Homo sapiens: one gene and its partners. The protein of the gene in region 4 interacts with the protein of the main gene of each other region in a biochemical or structural test. Each region holds a gene or a part of one and is shown on either strand. Other genes may lie near its edges.

Region 1 (3,786 bases), on a different chromosome or scaffold from region 4:
TTCGCTATATAAAACTGAAGTGTTTTTGACAGCCATGTTAAAGAACTTTTAAATCTAATGAAACATGTATTTAATAGTTTAAGTGATAGTTTAATAGGATATATCTAATTTGGTGTTTGTTTGTTTTTGTTTTTTGAGACAGGGTCTCATTATATTGCCCAGGCTGGAGTACAGTGGCACAATCTCAGCTCACTGCAACCTCAGCCTCCTGGGCTCAACCTCAGCTCACTGCAACCTCAGCATCCTGGGCTCAACCAATCCTCCCAGCTCAGCCTCCCAAGTAGCTAGCACTACAAGCGTGCGCTACCATACCTGGCTACTTTTTCTATTTTTAGTAGAGATGAGGTTTCGCCATGTTGCCCAGGCTGGTCTCAACTCCTGACCTGCAGTGATCCAGCCCGCCTCAGCCTCCCAAAGTGCTAGGATTGCAGGCGTGGGCCACTGTGCCTGACCAAAAAGTTTTAAATTTTATAGGTAACATTTTTGTGCAGAATTTTAAATATGAAAATAAAGTATGTTAAGAAATCTAAACATAACACATGTGAATTTAGGATTTTAAAGTGATCAGAATGGCTCTAGTAGTGTTAAGCTATCTTGGTTGTGGAACATATTTGAATATTTAAATAATTATTAAACATGCTTTTAGGCCAGGTGCAGTGGGTCACACCTGTAATCTCAGCACTTTAGGAGGCTGGGGGGGCGGCAGATCACCTGAGGTCGGGAGTTCGAGACCAGCCTGACCAACATGGTGAAACCCCGTCTCTACTAAAAATACAAAATTAGCCAGGCGTGGTGGTGCATGCCTGTAATCCCAGCTACTCAGGAGGCTGAGGCAGGAGAATCGCTTGAACCCGGGAGGCAGAGGTTGCGGTGAGCCAAGATTGTGCCATTGCACTCCAGCCTGGGCAACAAGAGCAAAACTCCATCTCAAAAAAAAAAAAAAAAAGATGCTTTTAAAACAATTTTAATTGCCCATATAGCATGGTAAATACTGCAAGGAATAAAATTCCAAGTGTTATTAGAAACCTTCAAAACAGGAAGACAGCATGAGTCCTTGAGCTATAAAGAATATAAAGCTACAAACTTCAAGAAGTACATTAACAGAGACAAGTGAACAACAGCACAGGAGGGTCACTCCCTAAAGACCTACTGTCTCCCACTGCACCAACATTCCTCTGAAAAAATAATCTCTTAATTACAAGGAATGTGTAAGGCATGTGTCAGTAAAATGTATTAGATATCTACTGTATGGTCCCAGAGATTATGCCAAGTTAAAGGAAAGTAAAAGATGAGTTTGGAACTTCTTACTGTGCCAGAAAGTAAGGAAGTGTTCAAGAAGGTGGTGGACACTAAACCTAAGGGGAATATTTGATGAGAAAGGGGATATTCGCATAGTTTCAAAGTGTGTCCCCTCAAATTACTTAATTGTAACAGGAAAAACAGTTAACTACAAAGTAAAAAAAAAAAAAAAAAAAAAGAGACAACACTTAAACTAAGTGATCAAAGCCTGGGCACATAGGGAGACTCCATCTCTACAAAAAATTTAAAAGCAGAGCATGGTGGCACATGCCTGTAATCCCAGCTATTCAGGAGGCTGATAGTGATAGGATTGCTAGAGCCCAGGCATTTGTGGCTGCAGTGAGCTATGACTGCATTCTAGTAGTCATACTAGAAAAACATAATATTTTTTTTTTTTTGAGACAGGGGACTCCTCGCTCTGTTATCCAGGCTCGTCTCGAACTTTTGGGCTCACTCAAGTGATCCTCCCGCTTCAGCCTCCCAAGCAGCTAGGACTATAGGCGTGCACCACCAATCCCAGCTATCAAATGCTGCACAATGTTATTTTATTTTATTTACTTTATTTTTGAGACAGGTTCTCACTCTGTCACCTAGGCTGGAGCACAGTGACATGACCAGGGCTCACTGCAGCCTCGACCTCCTGGGCTCAAGTGATCCTTCCACCTCAGCCCCCCAAGTAGCTGGGACTACAAACATGCACCACTAAGCCTAGTTAATTCTTTTTTTCTTTTTTTTTGAGACAGAGTCTCGCTCTGTTGCCCAGGCTGGAGTGCAGTGGCGTAATCTCGGCTCACTGCAACCTCTGCCTCCCGGGTTCAAGCGATTCTTCTGCCTCAGACTCCCGAGTAGCTGGGACTACAGGCACATGCCACCACGCCCGGCTAATTTTTGTATTTTTAGTAGAGACGGGGTTTCACCATACTGGCCAGGCTGGTCTCGAACTCCTGACCTCGTGATCCGCCCACCTCGGCCTCCCAAAGTGCTGGGATTACAGGCATAAGCCACTGCACCTGGCCAAATTTTTTTATTTTTAGTAGAGACGGGTTTTCGTCATGTTGCCCAGGCTGGTCTTGAACTCCAGGACTCAAGCAATCCACCCACTTTGGCCTCCCAAAGTGCTAGGATTACAAGTATGAGCCACCGTGCCTGGCCCACATGCTGTGCAATTTTAATTGGTGAATCTAAGGAATAGTTATACAGGAGAGTATTACACTATTCTCACAATTCAGTAAGTTTGAAATATTTTCAAAATAAAAAGTTAATAACCCTATATTGTTCCCACTATCAGAAATATCAGTAATGTTACTCTGTGTATGAAGGGAATCTATGTATATAGATACACACACACATACACACACACACACACTACTTTGAGATATCTCTATAGAGGGAAGATGGGTGGAATATAAAAGCAAAGCAAACTGCTCATAGAATAAAAAAATCAAATGAAGACAGAGAAGCATAAAAAAATAGGGTAAAACAAGATGACAGAGCCAAATATATTAATATACACTATGCTTCTGTATTAACATTCTCAAAATAGGTCAAAAATGAAAATCCAGCCATTAATGTTACCATCACCATGAAAGTATACCAGAAATTTACCAAATTTGAGGAACATTTGTCTATCTTCAAAAAGGATGTAGCATGTGACCTATGACAATTTCAGTACTCATTTTGTTTCTACCACCCTTTTTATTGGCACTTTTAAAGGCACTATAGGGGAAGTTCAACCCAAAACATTATTTCTTCTCTCCAACAAATGATATGCCATTTAAATCAGAGAATATTCAAGAAAAGGGCAGTTTTAACACCAGTGAACCAAACTGCTCAAAGGAGAATTTAAATTTTTTCTTGACTCAGGAGAAAAGTATACTCACTTCTTTTGGAGTATGATTATCAGCAATTCTCTGACCCTCAAAGAGAAACCTGAGTGAATTCATTGGAACACCCTAAAAAGGTAAAGATAATAATAATGCATACATACACACACAAATATTAGAAAACATAATGGTAACTTTGATGCACAAAAAGCAAGCATGAAAGCCTTAGAACACTACATAGAAAATAAAATTAGACAAGCTAATTCAATCATAAATACTATATACTGTACTGAGTAGCAACTATTTGCAAGGCCCTCCCTGTACCAATTCTTTACATACATAATCATAAGTGTTAAACACAACAACCCTGGAAGGTAGGTATTACCACCTTATCTTCATGTTACAGCTAGGGAACCTAAGGCTTGGAGCTAGCCAAGAATTTAAGCCCAAACCTGTTTCTAAGCCTATGCTCTTGACCACTACTCGATTCACTTTGCCCTAAATCTGTAAGCTAGAATAAAAGATCAGATCAGAAACTGGACGTGCACCCTCACTAGCTTCCAACTATACTGGCGAAATTGGTTTTAAACAGATTACATCATAAAATTTGGTAAAGCACAAATGGCTAGCTAGCTAATCTACCATAAACCTGGATGGCATAGAT
Region 2 (3,786 bases), on a different chromosome or scaffold from region 4:
TTCCACAATCACAAAAAGACAGCCTATTCATGCTCCTTCCTTTAGCACAGTGATTTTACCTGTCTGCGTCACTAGGAACATGCCCACGTATCACAATCAAAGTTCCAGGATCCAGCTGATCAGGAATGGTGCCAACAAACGGGATTACCTAAGAAAAAAAATTTAACAAATGTACGTTTACATAAACAAAATTACTTACTAAGCAATTACAACCCACACTCATTATTGATAGAGAAAAACTACACTTTTTAAGGCTGCACATAAATCTGCTCAGAATCCAGCATTTTCCAAGTCATCTTTCCTATTCAAACAGCTAGAAAAAGGAACTGCGGCCGGGCGCGGTGGCTCACGCCTGTAATCCCAGCACTTTGGGAGGCCGAGGCGGGAGGATCACGAGGTCAGCAGATCGAGACCATCCTGGCTAACACGGTGAAACCCCGTCTCTACTAAAAATACAAAAATTAGCCGGGTGTGGTGGTGGGCGCCTGTAGTCCCAGCTACTCGGGAGGCTGAGGCAGGAGAATGGCACGAACCTGGGAGGCGGAGCTTGCAGTGAGCCGAGATCGCGCCACTATGCTCCAGCCTGGGCGACAGAGCAAGGCTCCGTCTCAAAAAAAAAAAAAGGAACTGCATACCTCATGGCCAGGATATCTGCAATAGCTGCAAACCACTATGAGTTCTTTGGAAAGAGACACAAGGTAAATACTATTCATAGTATTTTGTATTTGGCTGAGAGTTTGTGAAGCAAAACTTCTGCTTAATATGATAATTCTAACAGAAAAAAAAAAAAAGACTTGTTGCAATGCCATGTCTACTCATTCCTTTTCCTACTGTTCCACTGCTGATCCCAACAGAAGGTTCGAGGCCACACTAGGCCCAAAGCCAATGCTGACGGAGACAATGACAAGCACTCACTGCCTCTGAAGGAAACTCCACGTTAAGCCACGCCCCCACACCTGGGATTCCAGGGCCTGCTCTTCTCTGCTGGACTCCCAGACTGCAACCCAGACTGCACTGTTAGAAACCAGAGAACTGCATGATCATGAGGATGAGTGGGTGCCTGTGGGTCTTCAAGACATGGCATCCACCTGCCGTGGACCAGTCCAGTCTGCAGGCGTGGACTCTGACAGCTGGCTCCACCCAGTATTCAGGTCTCAACCTGCACCCTCACTGCCCAGAACCCAGCCCTTTTTTTCTGGGACCTGCCACACTGCCAGATCTTGTCATTCCCCTTCCCCAGAGATGACTACACTGTCTTCCCAGTCCACTGGCTGGGGACCTGTGCTATGTGGCTGCCTCTCCTGCATCACAACCATCTGCCTCCATCTAGAGCATCTGACCAGGATGTACAGCCCACACACCGTTAAGCCTCACACTAAGCTCACTCAAATTACGATGTGCATGGTAAAACCTACCCAAGGTACTTCTGATTGTCAAGAAATAAGAAATAAAATAAGACGGGCCACAGAAAAGTGGTTATAAATTGGTGGCTCCTAAACCGAAATCGCCTTGAGGCACAGCCTCCTCTGTGGAGCCTTCTTCAAGCTCCCTGGGCTGCTGAGTCAGCCCCTCTCAGAGGGTTCATGATAGCACTTTGGATTCTGTTTGTTTGCATGTAGCTTTGCCTAGACTGTGAGCTGCATGGGGCAGAACTGGCTCATCACCTTTACCTCCCCAGGACACAGGTCAAGAGACGATCGGTAACTGCATGGTGAATGAATGAACTCTCACCTGTCTGGAAAGTGGGCTCTGGCAGGCCTCACACATACAGAGGAGAGGCAACAAAGCAGCTGCTGAACCGCAAGCTGAGCCCACAAGCTCTCTGTTGCCTTAGGCAATAAGATGAGAAATTACGGAAGCCAATTATCTATTTGTTGTCATGGCAATTGCTAGGAGCAGGGTGGGAGGCACATGACACCAGAAAACAAAAAATACAACAGACAGTGTAGACTGGGGCTACAGCTGCACATCAGAGTATCTGATTTTGTGTGTAGAGAATGGGGAAGGACCTACATCCCTACATTGATCTTTTGGGTCACAGCTGGTTCCAAGAATATATAGCAGCAGGTTTCATAGCGTTAATCTCTTAATAAAATGAGAAGTTTTTATAACATCAAATTTCATCTTAAAATTATCTTTATGCAGAATATTTAATAACACAAGTTAGTAATATAAGTGAGAAAGTAATCTATAGAGCCATATATAGTATGATCTCAACTAAATAAATATAAACATTAAAAAGAAAACCTTGCTAATACACACTGTATCCTGTATCAAAATATGCCATATACCCCATAAATAGATATACCTACTACATACTCAAAAAAATTAAAAATTAAAAAAAGAAAAAGAGAAACACTAAAGAAATCAGACAAAAATGATAACAATAGTTTTCATGGGGGATGATGGGATTTTAATTTTTTTCTTCATATATTTTCATACTTTGCAGATGTCTATAATAAGCATCGATATTTCTATAGCCAGAAAAATATTTTTAATTATATGTTTCATTTTAGTGTTGGAAAGAGCTTTTTGAGACAAAACAATCTATTCCCATCACTTTTTTTTTTTTTTTTTTTTTTTTGAGACAGAGTCTCACTCTGTCCCCCAGGCTAGAGTGCAGTGGCGTGATCTCAGCTCACTGCAACCTCTGCCTCCCGGGTTCAAGCGATTCTCCTGCCTCAGCCATCCAAGTAGCTGGGACTACAGGCATGTGCCACCATGCCCAGCTAATTTTTTGTACTTTTAGAGAGATGGGGTTTTGCCATGTTGGCCGGGCTGGTCTGGAACTCCTGGGCTCAAAGTGATCCTCCCAAAGTACTGGGGTTGCTTTGGGAGGTAATGAGCTTTGGGAGAAGCTACCGCACCCGGCCCCCATCACTTCTAATACCTTGTTCACAACTGTTTATAGGTTGTTCCAGTTTGAGAAACAACTATGCTAAGAACGGTGGCCACTTGCTGCTTTAGTTTTCTGGGTTCATCATGCCTTCTACTTCAGAAAAGATCCTGCATTACTTCAGTAATACTTTTTTTTTTTTTTAACTATGAGACACAGTGCCCTGCCGCTGACTCATTTAACCCACGACTATGTGGCTTCTGTGAAAACGGAGGACATACATTGTTTTCTAGGCTACTCCAAGCTACTTTGGTGATTCACAGATCATTATTAATTTACATTTAAAAAATTAAAATACAGATCTGATCACACTGGAGACAATACCACAAGCTTACGCCACAGTCAGGTTTGCTGTTATTTCCCAAAACACCCTTGCTGATTCATATTGCTTTGCCTTTTTGATGATTAAATGCAAGGCTCTCTATTAGGCAGACTGCAGCTTGAAAGAAGCCTAAGAGTCAGACACCCAGGAAACATAACAGACACCCAGGAAACATGGAGTGAAAATGTGATACTCTATTTGGCTGCTGAAAATTGGTATCCCTTTCCATATCTGAAAATCCCCTAGCTTATGAACATTAGACCTCATCTAGACTGCAACAAGGTAAGAGCAGGTGACAAAACTGCCCATTAGAACTTCCAGCTCAGCTTTTAAGTAAGAACCAGTGACAAGAAGAAGCCACAATGACGCAGTATTCACTCTGGCAAGGGGGCAGCCGCTATATCTGGGTTTGGAGAAAGCTACATCTGGGGTCAAAGGCAGCTACATCCGGGGTCAGGGGCAGCTATATCGAGGGTCAGAGGGAGCTGCATCCAGGGTCAGAGGGAGCTACATCTGGGGTCAGAGACAGCAGTGGCATTGGTAGAGTAGCAGAGACACAGTACCATCT
Region 3 (3,786 bases), on a different chromosome or scaffold from region 4:
TGACAGGAGCTGAGAAGACCTGGTTTCTCGTTCGGACTCTGGCACCAACCAGCTATGGAACCCTGGGCAAGTGAACCTCTCTGGTGCCCTAAGGTAGAGAAATGTCTAAAAATCACTCCAGCCAAATATTCGGCTCTTCCTTTCTAGCAGTTTAAAAATATTTATAATTATAGATTTTAAAAAATAAAGTTATATAATTTTTAGATGCCAACTGAAACTATACAGAACTATATATATACATAACTCTATATAACTCTATGACACAGCACATAAAACTTACAAAGCATCATATAGAACAATGTCTCATAGTTCATATGTCTCAGGGTTCACTTATTTTTTAAACAGATTTATTCACATCTGTAATACAATTATTTCTTTGTTTTGAATACAACCTGGAGGGAAGCATATGGGAGACACAGCCTTTATTTAAAAAAATGAAGTAATGATATGGAATGATTGACAGTTGGATAGAATTTTCATTGTCGGCACTTCTACTTCTTTATATGACCCTGCACCTTTCACAGTGCTAATATTTGTTTAAGGTTGCTTAACGTTGTTCCTCTCCTCTAGAACTTTGGAAGTAAAAGCCATTCTCATCTTTAGAAACAGTAGATTCAATAATAATAAATAATAATAAACTAGAAGCCTGAGTTTCTGTTCCTACCTGTCAGTCAATGCCTAAATAATTTCATTTTCACCCATTCACCCATTCATTACATGAAAGGGGCTGGGATAAGAGAGAACACTCCTGAAGGGGAGGACTACTTTTTCTCCTCCTTTTAGTTCCTACCCACTCTTGCATGGGTTTTATACACATATGTGGTTTCAGATTTTATGAATTCTATACTTTCAAAGTGGGTGAATGTCAAGTTCAGCTGTGACTGTTACCGAGCTGGATGAAGCTGCCCAGATGCAGCCTGCAGATGGTGTGGAATGAGGGGCTCAGTGCACAGAGTTCAAAGTGCAAACAGAAGCTGTGTAAGAAAGTGCAGCAAACTGTGGTTGGTGTTAAAACTGCTCCTGAAAAAAATGGCACTCAAACCAATGTATCTTAGTTGACCTAAACTCTCTTTTGCACATTCTGGGGCAGTAATAAGAAACAAACATTGATAGCTATACATATTATAAAATTTTGCACAGTAAAAGGGGAAGTGCTTCTCTCTTGAGCAATGAGTGCCACTCTGACATTTTTTGTCTCCCTTAAAAAACTCACCTAGGATGGGCCGGGTGCAGTGGCTCATACCTGTAATCCCAGCATTTTGGGAGGCTGAGGCGGGCAGATCACGAGGTCGGGAGATCGAAACCATCCTGGCCAACATGGTGAAAACCTGTCTCTACTAAAAATACAAAAATTAGCCGGGCGTGGTGGCACACACCTGTAATCCCAGCTACTCAGGAGGCTGAGGCAGGAGAATGGCTGAACGTGGGAGGCGGAGATTGCAGTGAGCTGAGATGGGGCCACTGCACTCCAGCCTGGTGACAGAGCTAGTAGACTCCATCCAAAAAAAAAAAAAAAAAAAAAAACCAACAACAAAAACTCACCCACAATGGAATGTGACTATGGAATACCCTGCGGTGTGTTCAGAGCTCTGACTTCTGTTTGCTCTTTTTAACATAACCCCCATCTGGCAAGCTGACTGCTGCAAGATTTTCTGGGTCTTTCTTTAGGATCTACTAACAATGAAAAACATATATATGAAAACCTACACATTTTCAGAAGCACATGAGAGCTGATCAAGACCCACGTACCTCCCAAGGAGAGGAGATGACAGAGGCTGCTCTGTGGTGTTGCTCTCAGGCTATATTTGATTTATTGCTCAAATCTTATTATTTCATTCTCCATTCGAGACTAGCAAAGTTTCTTTTGAGAAGTCACAGTCTCTACGGAGGGTATTCTAACGCCCAGAAGTAAAAGTTGGATGTTGGCAAAGAAAGCAAAGTAGAATCTTTGCAAAATGTTGGAGCTGCATAGTTCTCTCTCCCAATGGACATGTTTCAAGACTGAATACGTTGAGTATTTGATTTAGAATCAATTTAACATGAACTTCGCATTTATGCAAAGCAGCATCAGTCCTGAGATCAGCAGAGCGATTGAGCAAGCCCAACTAGCAAACTGAGATTTCTATTTGTGATGACCTTTCCCATTTGAGGCCCCAAAAATGTCTTGGGGAACTCATTGTTTAAAAAGAAGTCCATCAAAAAATGGACACATATGGACCATGGCATGGGAGGGCAGTGCTGCATACAAAATCAACAATTCTCTAAATGAACACCGATCTTGCAGAAAAACAAAATGAAAGCAAAACAAAAAGAAATTTCTAATTTCAAGAGAAAAACTGAATAACAACTTTCTTTTCATTCATCCTTTCTTTCTTCTTTTTCTTTCTTTCTTTTTTTTTTTTTTTTTAACGAAGCAATGACTTTCTCAGGGAGAAAGATTTGCATCCATGCTGAGGAAATAGACAGGGCCAGTAATCACACAGCAACAATCATCTGTAACTTGCAGAAATTCAATGTATGAATAAGTGTTTAAAGCCTAGATAGAGGGCAATTATCTGGTTATCTGTTTTTCATATTTCTATCAGAGATAAAAACCTCTTTAGGGAAATTTATGAAGGGCCATTTGAAAGAAGGTTTCCCTCTTTTGTAGAAAAGAATTCTCTTAAAAATTAAAACAAATTTGGGAGGCTGGGGGATTTTTGAGAGTTTAAAAGAGTGAGGAAGATGGGGGGCGGGAAGCAACTATTTCCAGCTGCGAGAAACCGATCAACCTCACAGCAAGGTGTGGTGGCTCTGATGCAAGCAACATTCCCATAGATACAGGGCTGTCTGGTTTTCTATTGCTCATTCTAACTTGAGGAGACGCTCAAGTGTGATTTGGGGCTTTGACACTGAAAATAGGTGTGAACTTGGATCCATTTAACCTAGCCCCTTCCCCCACCTCATCCCTTCTCCTGTCCAGTTTGCTTTCAATGGGTCAACAATAAATATTCACCCTTGGCATCCATCTGCAACTTCCAAGAGGGAATGAAGGAAGAACATAAAGTTTCTCTGCATTTGTTTCCAAAGCCCAGCTGGCACAGAAAACAAATGATACAAGATATGACTGGGAAGGCACACAGCCTGTCTTTGTCACCAGGTCTGGCAGATGTGGCTCTGGGTTCACGAGACATCTGCTCCCAGCTACCTTCCTCTCTGCTTCCCTCCACTCTCCAGGCTGGAAAGTGACAACTCCATTGTCCTCAGTTCCCTCCAGCCAGAGGCCTGTGACCTAGTTGTGGCCTAAGCAATATGTCAGCGAAAGTTTGCAGAGAAGGGCTTCCCTTCCTGAATAAAAATACCAGGACCCACAAGAAGGGGTTGAGGCCTCCCATGTCCTTTCTGCCTGGACAGATCAGAGGTGCAGGCCATCTCTCCCTGGCCTCAGCATGGTGGGACCAAAACATAGGAGTGTCCTGCACCCCACCGTATCAGCCTGGACTGCTCACTCTGGAACTCCTGCCCGTCTGCTCAAGCCACTGTGGTCAGCTTTTCTCTACGTGCAGCCAAACATAATTTTCATGGGTAAACCTGAGCAAGGGCCTTACTCTTTCTGTCACTGCAATAAAATACATAATTTCCGTCATGTTTCGGATTTAGTGTTTATTCCTCCACCTTGGCTCCTTTCTGGCATCATTACTCAGTGTTATTGCAAGATGAGGGAGGGAGAGAAAGAGAGAGATTCAGAGAGCCAAGAGAGTATAACACGTGTCTCCCCAACAAAGAGTGAAGCCTGCGCAAGTGAGA
Region 4 (2,976 bases):
AATAATTGAAATTCACAAATGTCTGGTATCTTGTCCCTCGTGCCCCATATATTATCTGTGGTTTCGGAGAGCTCACTTGTCTCTTATCTTCAGAAATGACAGCACATGAAATGTTGTTTGGAGCCACTGTCACATCAACTGTAGAAAAATTAACAGGTCAGCTAAGGGATATAATGTAACTTTATTTGTGATATGAGAGAAATCTTGATAAAGACTTGAGAGAAAACTGGGAGGAACCTTGTTTAGAAGTTATAAGGAGGGGTAAGTTATGTGTGTCTTGGAAGGAGAATCATAAATCTTAAAACATGAGCCTAATAGAGAACATAAAATTCTAAAAGATAAAGATAATAATAATGATAAGCCGCAGGGTGGCTTATGATAATGTGACTTCTCCTTACCCCAGTAGCGTCGGACATCTGTCAGCTCTGAAATGATAAAAATGCACAATATTGAATACAAACAAAGGAGTCAGCACTGAAATTCATTTTCTCTCCAGATTAGGGAAAGAGTAGGTATGCCCTATGGTAGGGCAGTAAATTGCTGAATGATGAGATGAAACAGCCACCTAGCCATTTCCCATTAAATATAATCCCATCAGCAGCAGACAATATCTATCCTCCCCTATCCCCTCTATCCATATTTGGAAACTGCACCCTCTTCCCTATTTAGCACCCTAACACCACTTGAATTCCATAACCCTGTTGTTGATCTAGCTCTCCTCACCTCTAAACACTTCTAGCATTCCTTTCAGATCAGGAGCTCGAAACACTCTCCTTTGATTTTTTGGAAAAGTTTCTGGCTTCTTCAAGGTCACGTTCTCCGTCCTAAGAATTAAAAAAAAAAAAAAAAACTTCCAAACCTTTGACCTTGTGTCCGTGGAACACCCCTGACTTCCTATCATTTCAACCCATTGAGGCACTTGAACTCTCTTCTTGGGGATCCTGAGAAGGGAGAGTGCAAACTCTTGACCCTGGAGGCAAACAAAATGTTCTCATGTTTGCCTTCCCACTTACTTTCTGTGAGAACGTGGGAAGATCTTAACCTCTCAGAAGCACAGTTTCTTCCTTCTAAAATGAAATAATTAACCTCTCCCTGTCTACATTCTTAAACTCATAGGACATAAAAAAAAAAAAAAGGATTTTAAAACAAAACAAAACAAAACTTTGGTGCCTTACAAAAGAAACCCTAACATTTAATGGGTGGAAACATCATCGCTATGTATGTTGAGTTCCCAGGGAGATGGTTAGAAAGTGAGGTTGCAGAACCTGGCTCCTGGGTGTTTGACACATATCAAGAGAGGAATCCTGTTTGGAGAGGCCTAAGACCTTCAAAGCTATTCCCAGCAGGGAGGTACTCAGATAACATCTAAGGTTTCAGATTTCCGGGAAAAATTACAAACACTTGGCAAATGAGAAATTATGTGCACTAAACTATTACTGGCCTGAATATCGTGTGGTTAGAAAGAACTTGATACCACCACGTAGGTGTGCGAGGTGTGCGATTTTAGACACAAGAATAGCACCTTTTTATGCTCTTGTAAAGAATGCAACTGAGGTGGATCAATTCTTTGTACCATGACCACATATTATCCAGAATATTATTTTGAAATATTATTCCGGAAATAAACATCTGATTTTGGAAATCTAAATATAAATGAAGAGGAACTGGTCTTTTTCCAGGAGGAAAATATAAACATGTGGGAATTGTCCCAATGGACAATTAGGGGTATATAAGAGAAAAAGAAGATATGGCCCATCCAAAATAAATCAAGAACCTATTAAATACAGAAAGAGAACTAGATGTAGGTAATAAAATGGTGATGGCGCAGGGGTCCAACACTGCAACACCTTCTCCCTGAAACCACTACTGACCCACACTCCGAGTCTCCACCACCCAAATTTTCTACCATAGAATCTGGTCTATTCCTTTTCTTTTTTTTAATTTTATTTAATTTTATTGATTTTTCTAAGACAGAGTCTCACTTTGTCGCCCAGACTGGAGTGCAGTGGCATGGTCTTGGCTCACTGCAACCTCTGCCTCCTGGATTCAAGCAATTCTCCTGCCTCAGCCTCCCGAATAGCTGGGATTACAGGCACGGGCCACCACGCCCCCCTAATTTTTGTATTTTTTTGATAGAGACAGGGTTTTGCCACGTTGGCCAGGCTAGTCTCAAACTCCTGATCTTCCTGACTCGGCGTCCCAAAGTGCTGGGATTATAGGCTTGAGCCACCACACCTGGCCAAATCTGGTCTATTCTTAATAGTTATAGAACATTCGAATGCTGATTTATGACCAGAAATTTATGATAAAACAATATCGAAATTTTTCTGCCCTGGGAGATGTTTTATTCTAATTAAACCCAGGACAATTCTAATGGCTATAAATCTCTCCTCACTGCACAAAAGGACCATCTCTGTCCTCCCACACATACCTTTTTATGACGCCATCCACACCCTAGGAAGAAGAGAGAAAACATCAATTAAGAAAGAAAGAGTCTCTCCTCACTTATAAAGCTTCATCACATTTCCCCCGGTTCCTAATGTGCTGAGAATGGAGATGGTGACAGTGTGAAAGACAAAAAAGCAAAGATAAGACTCAAGGCAATCATCCCAGAAGACTCATGTGAGATTTCCAAGTTCCCTTAAAAGTAGAAATAGCTTTCATCCCTGTGGAAGAGGCTCCTGGTTTCTGCAGATGGGACATGTTTAGAAGGAAAAGAAGTGACTGACAATTTGTTTTTCTCCAAACGTATATGGCTCTCCATGAAATGATTTAAATAATTAGTGCTTCTTTGATTTATTAAACAGATGTACAGCCTAGGCAACATAGCATGACCGCATCTCTACAAAAAATAAAATAAAAAAAAATTAGCCAAGCATGGTGGCATGAGCCTGTAGTTCCAACTACTTGGGAAGATGAGGTGGGAGAATTTGAGCCCAGAAGTTTGACTGAGGCTGCACTGAGCTAGGATCACAC
Region 5 (3,786 bases), on a different chromosome or scaffold from region 4:
TAGAGAGCTCTTCCTCTCCCTTCCTCCTGCATTCTCCGCCCCTTCCCATCTCTGTCTCTTGTCTCTCGAGATCTCTCTCTCTGAGTCTCTGTACCCTTCTCTCCTCTCTGGGTCTCTATCACTCTGTCTTCCTGTCAACTGATCTCTGTCTCCCTGCCATCCCCCATCTTCTCCCCTCCCTCTCCATCTGTGTCTCTCTTTGGGTTTCTGCCTCTTCTGAGACTCTCTCTTCTCTCTCTCATCTCTGTCTAACTCTAAAGTTGGGGGCTTCAATGGAGACTAATTATACAGTGGTCTGGCTGTCTCTCCGTTTCTGTATCTCCATCCCACTCCCTCAATCACTCTATTCCCTTTTCCCACCATCTTCTTCTGCCCTTTTCTGGGTTCCCTCTATCCTAACCCCTCCCATCAGCTGCTCTCTGGGGGCCACTAGGACCCTCAGATCATTCTCTGTCAGCTGTCATTGCCTTCCCTGCACCCCAGACTCACAACACAAAGGTCTCATTCCACACAGGGTTTAGCGTGGCTTTCACCGTTCGGGTCTTCTGTTTCGTCAGGTTCCGAGGGTCTGGGATGAGCTTCAGTTTCACATAGGGATCAGAGAGACCATTGGGGTCCATAGGAATTAGGTTACGGGCCTCGCCAACTAAACGGGGAGTGAGGAAGAGTGTGACGGGTTAGAGATCCAGGAAGGGGCTCCCAGCCCTCCTCCAGTCAGCAATCAAGAGTTCCAAGCTTGGCCAGGCACGGCGGCTCATGCCTGTAATCCCAGCACTTTGGGAGGCCAAGGCGGGCGGATCACAAGGTCAGGAGATCGAGACCATCCTGTGAATGGTGAAACCCCGTCTCCACTAAAAATACAAAAAAAAAAAAAAATTAGCTGGGCGTGGTGGCAGGTGTCTGTGGTCCCAGCTACTCAGGAGGCTGAGGCGGGAGAATGACGTGAACCCAGGAGTCGGAGCTTGCAGTGAGCCGAGATTACGCCACTGCACTCCAGCCTGGGCGTCACAGCGAGACTCCGTCTCAAAAAAAAAAAAAAAAGAATTCCAAGCTCTCAGTCTCGTTTCTCATGACTTCTTACCTCTCCAGAACCCAGAAGACAGGGCATAGAGCCCTTTCCGCAACCAGTGACCCTGAAATCAGATCCAGAGCCCTTCTCTCCATTAGGAACCAGAGTTTGGACCCTGGCCATGTCACCAGTACTGAACCACAGCCTCCCTCAGAACCAGGTACTCTCCCTTCTCAAGATCCTTATACCCAGAAAGCCATTGCCGGGCACGGTCCTCACCCCTGTAATCCCAGCACTTTGGGAGGCGGAGGCGGGCGGATCACCTGAGGTCAGGAGTTCCAGACCAGCCTGGCTAGCATGGTGAAACCCTGTCTCTACTAAAAATACAAAAATGAGCTGGGTGCAGTGTCATGCACCTGTAGTCCCAGCTACTCAGGAGGCTGAAGCAGGAGAATCGCTTGAACCTGAGAGGCGGAGGTTGCAGTGAGCTGAGATCATGCTACTGCACTCCAGCCTGGGCAACAGAGCGAGATCTTGTCTCAAAAAAAAAAAAAAAAAAAAATTAGCCGGATGTGGTGGCAGGCGCCTGTAATTCCAGCTACTCGGGAGGCTGAGGCAGGAGAATCCCTTGAACCCCGGAGGCAGAGATTGCAGTGAGCCAAGATTGCACCACTGCACTCCAGCCTGGGTGACAGAGCAAGACTCCATCTCAAAAAAATAAACATAAAATAAAAACAAAAAAGAAAGCCATTGGCCAGGCGCGGTGGCTCACGCCTGTTAATCCCAGCACTTTGGGAGGCCGAGTCGAGGGGATCACCTGGGGTCAGGAGTTCGAGACCAGCCTGGCTAACATGGTGAAACCCCGTTTGTACTAAAAATACAAAAAATTAGCCGGGCTTGGTGACACGCGCCTGTAATCCCAGCTACTCGGGAGGCTGAGGCAGGAGAATCACTTGAACCCGGGAGGCGGAAGTTGCAGTGAGCCGAGATCGCGCCATTGCACTCCAGCTTGAGCAACAAGAGCGAAACTCCGTCCCAAAAAAAAAAAGAAAGTCAAAGTCATTAACAGGTGCAGAAAGTTGCAAGAAGCCAGGTTGGAGGCGGGGCTTCGAGCCAAAAGGGGTATGGCTGGGTGTGCTCGGCCTTTGGGGTGGGGTCAGGAGTGTGGGCGTGACCATAGAAAGAGGCGTGGCCCCATCTTTGGGGTAGGGCTGGGCCAGCACAAGTGCCTTGGGTCAGCCCCGCCTCACACTTGGGGAGGGGGCGGGGCCAGGCGAGGGGGCGGGGCCTCACCAGTTACGTGGATCTCATCTGCTGTGGGAGCCCGGATCTCCAGCTGCAGGCGCCCGCGGCGCTCGGTGTGGTCCACACCGCACAGGGAGGGCACGCTACGCACACAGCGCCGGTGCACGTTCATCTCGCAGCCTGGAGGGGAAAGCTGCGGGTAGCACCTCAGGCCCCGCCCCCAAGCCAAGACTCCACCCCCCACCCCATCCCGGGCATTTCCCGGAACCCAGACCGGGCGCTTTGGAAGGGCCCTGGCAAGGCCCAGGTCACTCACAGGAGCATTTCATGCCCTGGTGCACAAGCCCGTAGAGGAGGGAGCCACAGTGGTCGCAGAAGGTGGGGCTGCTGTAGCTATGCAGGCGGAACTTGTGTTTGTTCCGGGGGTCCTGGGGGCAGAGAAGACTGGCTTAGGGGGCGTTGGGAGGGTCCTAAAACCCCAGGGGAGGGGCCCTTTTATCTTTTCCTCCTGCCTTGCTCTCTAGGTCAGCCTGAGGCTCCATCTCTTTCACTCTATGTACCAATAATCATTGAGCACCTGCTGTGTGCCAGGGACTGTTCTTGGTGTGGGGACCCAGCATTAAACAAATGAAAAAAAAAAACCTCTTTGTCACATGGAGTTTACTTCCTAATGGAGGGATACAGAATGTAAACATGGTAAATAAATAAAACATATAGTTTGATGGTTGGTAATGGGTGCTCTGGAGAAAAAATGAGGCAGGGATGGGGACCACCAGAAGTTGGGGGATTGAAATTTTAAATACGGTGGTCCTGGCTGGGTGCGGTGGCTCATGCCTGTAATCCCAGCACTTTGGGAGGCCGAGGTGGGCGGATTGCCTTGAGCTCAGGAGTTCCGGACCAGGCTAGGCAACATGGCAAAACTCTGTCTCTACTAAAAATACAAAAATTAGCCGGACATGGTGGTGCATGCCTGTAATCCCAGCTACTCAGGAGGCTGAGGCATGAGAATTGCTTGAATCCAGGAGGCCGAGGTTGCAGTGAGCCAAGATTGTGCCACTGCACTCCAGCCTGGATGACAGAGCAAGATTCTGTCTCAAACAACAACAACAACAACAAAACTGTGTGCAGGGGGAGTGGCAGGGGGGCCTCGCTGACCAAATGATATCTGGGCAGAACATGAAGGAGGCAGGAGCTTCCAACCTCCCATAGTTCCCATCCCCCCAACTCCCACAAGTTATTATTTGAGGACTTGTGGGCCACCCTGAACCCCAGCTCCTTCACTGGCAGCTTCTGTCAGTGTCCATATGGTATGCCTTCTCTGAGCTCCAGGTGGAATGGAGAACATGACCTCTCAGTTATAATAGGAACCCAGGAGGCCTAAATAAAATAATTGGTGTACAAAACATAGCTGTGCCTACCACGTTAGATGCTCCCAATACTATTACTGTGGTTATTGTTAGGGATTTTATTGAAGTCCCTACATAGCCCTGAATGTAAGTAAGAGCTAGGCCGCTTCTCAGCTGTGTGATTTG
Region 6 (3,786 bases), on a different chromosome or scaffold from region 4:
CCGTAAATATTTGTCCATTACTTAACACTTCAAAAAGCATTCCTAAATAGCTAATTCTGCATTAGTTTAATTCTATTTTAGGTCAGTCTATTAAGCAGTTCTACAATAGTAAGGTTCAGTACCTATAAAGGAATAATTTAAAATTCATATTTATATAATATACCAAAAAAGTGGCTTATTTTCTTGCTGCATGCGTTTGCCATAACTGTAATGTTCTTCATAGTATCTTCATATTCTTTATAAAAAAGGAAGTCAACTAACCTAATTTCATTCTAATAGAGACATAGCAGTAACTGCTGGTAAGTATGTACTTATTTGGAAAGTGACTTACTCAAAATTACACAGTAACTGAGTAGTGAAACTAAGCTCTGAAATCTGTTGATGCTGTGAAGGTGTAAGTAATGAACACAGTTTGGCATCACAGAGAAATCATTGGTGTAATTATGTAACTTTTCAGTCAAGAATTAAGCATTTACTAAACTACTTTATAGTTTTTATAGCTAAAGAAAAGAAGAAATATTCCTGAGTTTATAACACAAGGTTACTTTATGTATCATATTTTAAAAAGAAGTTCTCATGTGTATACTTGTGTACTGAGTAAAATTATAATTGTAAATTTTTACTGTTCAAAGATAATCCTTTTTTTTTTTCCTTTTTTTTTTTTTTGTTTTAGCTGGAGTCTCACTCTGTCGCCCAGGCTGGAGTCCAGTGGCATGATCTCCGCTCACTGCAAGGCGCCTCCGCCTCCTGGGCCCAAGGGATTCTCCTGCCTCAGCCTCTCAAATAACTGGGATTACAGATGCGCTCTACCACGCCTGGCTAATTTTTTTTGTATTTTTAGTAGAGACTAGGTTTCACCATGTTGGCCGGGCTGGTCTCGATCTCCTGACCTCAGGTGATCCACTCACCTCAGCCTCCCAAAGTGCTGGGATTACAGGCTTGAGCCACCATGCTGGCCTATTTTCTAACTTTTAATTATGTTGTAACCCTTCCATACTGACATCAACAAACAGACGTCGTATCTAACTGTCAAGGCAACATGACTACTACAACAGTAATGTCTGTAAGAGTCCATGTTCCATCTCTCTCAATCACTATAGCCAATTACTTGAGCAAAGAGCAGTGGGCTGGGGGCAATGGCTCATCCTGTAATAATCCCAGCACTTTAGGAGGCCAAGGTGGGCCGATGGCTGAGTCCTGGAGTTCAAGGCCAACTTGAGCAACAGGGAAAAAACCCATCTCTACAAAAAATAAAAAAATTAGCCAGGCATGGTGGCGTGTCTATAGTCCCAGCTGCTTGGGAGTCTGAAGTGGGAGGATCACCCGAGCCTGGGAGGACAAGGGTGCAGTGAGCCAAGACCACGTCACTGCACTCTAGCCTGGGTGACAGAGTGAGACCCTGTCTCAGAGAGAAAAAATTTTAAAAGCTGTGAATAATCCAAAATAATGCATTATTTCTAAGTCTGAAAATAAGCACACATTCATACTTTATCTCCTGTTATTAAATCTCAACCTCCTTCCATCCCTACAAATTGACAGTTAACAGTCTAAGACCCAGCTAGGTAAGAGAGGAAGTAAATGCAGAAATTTCACAAGGGTAATTCAACTGACCATTTCTCTCAATTATATCACTGTTTTTAGAGTTGACAAACATCAACTACTATGCACTGACTTTCTAAGATCTTAAGACACAACGTAACAGGAGGTTTTATCTAAAATTAACAATTCTAGAATGTCAAATTAGAAAATTAGACAGCATATATGTTAAAATTGCTAACTTACGAGAAGTCTGAATGAAGCAGTTAAATTCTAAAATCAGAAATTATATCCAGGAGGTCAAGTACTTCATAACATTAAATAATACATAGGAAAGAAAAAAGGTTATAAAATTTAAAAACACGGCCGGGCGCGGTGGCTGACGCCTGTAATCCCAGCACTTTGGGAGGCCGAGGCGGGCGGATCACGAGGTCAGGAGATGGAGACCATCCTGGCTAACACAGTGAAACCCCGTCTCTACTAAAAATACAAAAAATAAGCCGGGCGAGGTGGCAGGCGCCTGTAGTCCCAGCTACGCGGGAGACTGAGGCAGGAGAACGGCATGAAGCCCGGGGATTGGAGCCTGCAGTGAGCCGAGATCGCACCACTGCACTCCAGCCTGGGCGACAGCGAGACTCTGTCTCAAAAAAATAAAATAAAATAAAATTTTAAAAAAGCATTTAACAACAACAACAAAAAATTCAATTTTAGGATTCACCTGAGAAAAGAATACCTCAATACTGCTACACTTTCAAAAATGTTTAGAATCACATAAAAATTCACTTCAATAAAAGAATGCTTCTGCAGTTTGGGGATAAAAGTTTCTACCAAATAATCAGTCCCTAAAACGCTAAAACTAAAAATTTGCTACAAGAAACTTTTCATGTAATATTTAAAGATTTTTAGAATTACCAAAATTAAATGTAGATCTGTTTAACTCCTATCAATTTTAGGTATCACCACAAATATAACATTCTCTTAATGATGGTTTCTTAAGACTGGGCACATAGGCTCACGCCTGTAATGCCAGGATTTGGGGAGGCCAAGGCAGGTGACTGCTTGAGCCCAGGAGTTCCAGACCAGCCTGGGCAACATAGTGAAACCTGTCTCTACAAAATACAAAAACCTGTAGTCACAGCTACTCAGGAGGCTGAGATGGAAAAGATCACTTGAGCCCAGGGAGGTTGAAACTGCAGCAAGCCGAGACAGCGCCACTGCACTCCAGCCTGGGTGACACAGTGAGACCCTGTCTCCAAAAAAGAAAAGGTTTCTTAAAACATAATTTAACTGTAATCTTACTTGGTGATACATTACTTTTTTCTAGGAAGAAACAATAGGAAGGAAAAGAAAAAAAGAAAATGAGTAAAGAATGTCTCAAAGGGATCACATAAGTCTGAAAACCACTATCTTGAATTGTATATGGCAGAACTCTAGCAATATTAGGGAGTAGAGCGTCCCCAGCATTTACAGGTGTGCCAGAATATTGATCTCCCATCCCGGGAGTTTCATGAGGTGCTGCCTGCCAGGTGCTTCTAGCCTCCCAATCTCATCTACTTTAGTGTACTATTCAAAACTTACTTTCTATGTGGGCAGAACCTAAAAGATGGTTGAGACGCACTGACAGAATACATTAAAGCAGTTACTAGCTCAACTTTAAAATACATACTCTCCAATAAGAAATTCAAAGTCTACCCTTACTTGTTTTACTCATTACCAAGTAATGAAATCCCATGTTACATTTGTATAATATGGCATTTTAAAAAAAATACAGTTCCTCTTAGAGCTTAAGTAACTTCAGCAGCAGCAGCAACATCCTGGTGTGGGTTAGATAAATCTACTAAAAGCTTTTTGGGTTAAGGACATGGTCATTCCATGTTACAGCTTATTTTTTCCTAATCGAAATCCCCAAATGATCAATTTCCTAGTCTTCTTCCATGCTTTTTCTCCACTGCACTATCACCTTCTAATATAATAACACACTTGGCCGCGTGCAGTGGCTCACACCTGTAATCCTAGTACTTTGGGAGGCCGAGGCGAGTGGATCGCCTGAGGTCAGGAGTTCAAGACCAGCCTGGCCAACATGGCAAAACCCAGTCTCCACTAAAAACACAAAAAAAATTACCTGGGCGTGGTGGCCAGCGCCTGTAATCCCAGCTACTCAGGAGACTGAGTAGGAGAATTGCTAGAACCCTGGGAGCGGAGGTTGCAGTGAGCCAAGATGGCATCACTGCACTCCAGCCTGAGCAACAC

Evidence for each region.
Region 1: the proteins of TRIM5 (region 4) and SUMO1 form a complex in vitro, tested with the Homo sapiens proteins (one study listed by BioGRID).
Region 2: the proteins of TRIM5 (region 4) and LGALS8 form a complex in vitro, tested with the Homo sapiens proteins (one study listed by BioGRID).
Region 3: the proteins of TRIM5 (region 4) and RUNX1 form a complex in vitro, tested with the Homo sapiens proteins (one study listed by BioGRID).
Region 5: the proteins of TRIM5 (region 4) and PRKCG form a complex in vitro, tested with the Homo sapiens proteins (one large-scale study listed by BioGRID).
Region 6: the proteins of TRIM5 (region 4) and UBE2W form a complex in vitro, tested with the Homo sapiens proteins (one study listed by BioGRID).

Annotation. Positions count from the first base shown.
Region 1 is NC_000002.12:202,207,556-202,211,341, forward strand, and holds part of SUMO1 (small ubiquitin-related modifier 1 isoform a precursor), read right to left. Parts: intron 3,252-3,786; coding exon 3,180-3,251; intron 448-3,179; coding exon of another isoform or gene 313-447; intron 1-312. UniProt on the Homo sapiens protein: Ubiquitin-like protein that can be covalently attached to proteins as a monomer or a lysine-linked polymer.
Region 2 is NC_000001.11:236,533,859-236,537,644, reverse strand, and holds part of LGALS8 (galectin-8), read right to left. Parts: intron 149-3,786; coding exon 60-148; intron 1-59.
Region 3 is NC_000021.9:35,039,271-35,043,056, forward strand, and holds part of RUNX1 (runt-related transcription factor 1), read right to left. Parts: intron 157-3,786; exon of another isoform or gene 1-156.
Region 4 is NC_000011.10:5,665,258-5,668,233, forward strand, and holds part of TRIM5 (tripartite motif-containing protein 5), read right to left. Parts: intron 2,843-2,976; coding exon of another isoform or gene 2,642-2,842; exon of another isoform or gene 2,461-2,641; intron 2,455-2,460; coding exon 2,432-2,454; intron 825-2,431; coding exon 724-824; intron 426-723; coding exon 399-425; coding exon of another isoform or gene 250-398; exon of another isoform or gene 139-249; coding exon 1-138.
Region 5 is NC_000019.10:53,888,534-53,892,319, reverse strand, and holds part of PRKCG (protein kinase C gamma type), read right to left. Parts: intron 2,683-3,786; coding exon 2,571-2,682; intron 2,435-2,570; coding exon 2,303-2,434; intron 647-2,302; coding exon 490-646; intron 1-489. UniProt on the Homo sapiens protein: Calcium-activated, phospholipid- and diacylglycerol (DAG)-dependent serine/threonine-protein kinase that plays diverse roles in neuronal cells and eye tissues, such as regulation of the neuronal receptors GRIA4/GLUR4 and GRIN1/NMDAR1, modulation of receptors and neuronal functions related to sensitivity to opiates, pain and alcohol, mediation of synaptic function and cell survival after ischemia, and inhibition of gap junction activity after oxidative stress.
Region 6 is NC_000008.11:73,872,250-73,876,035, forward strand, and holds part of UBE2W (ubiquitin-conjugating enzyme E2 W), read right to left. Parts: intron 1-3,786. UniProt on the Homo sapiens protein: Accepts ubiquitin from the E1 complex and catalyzes its covalent attachment to other proteins.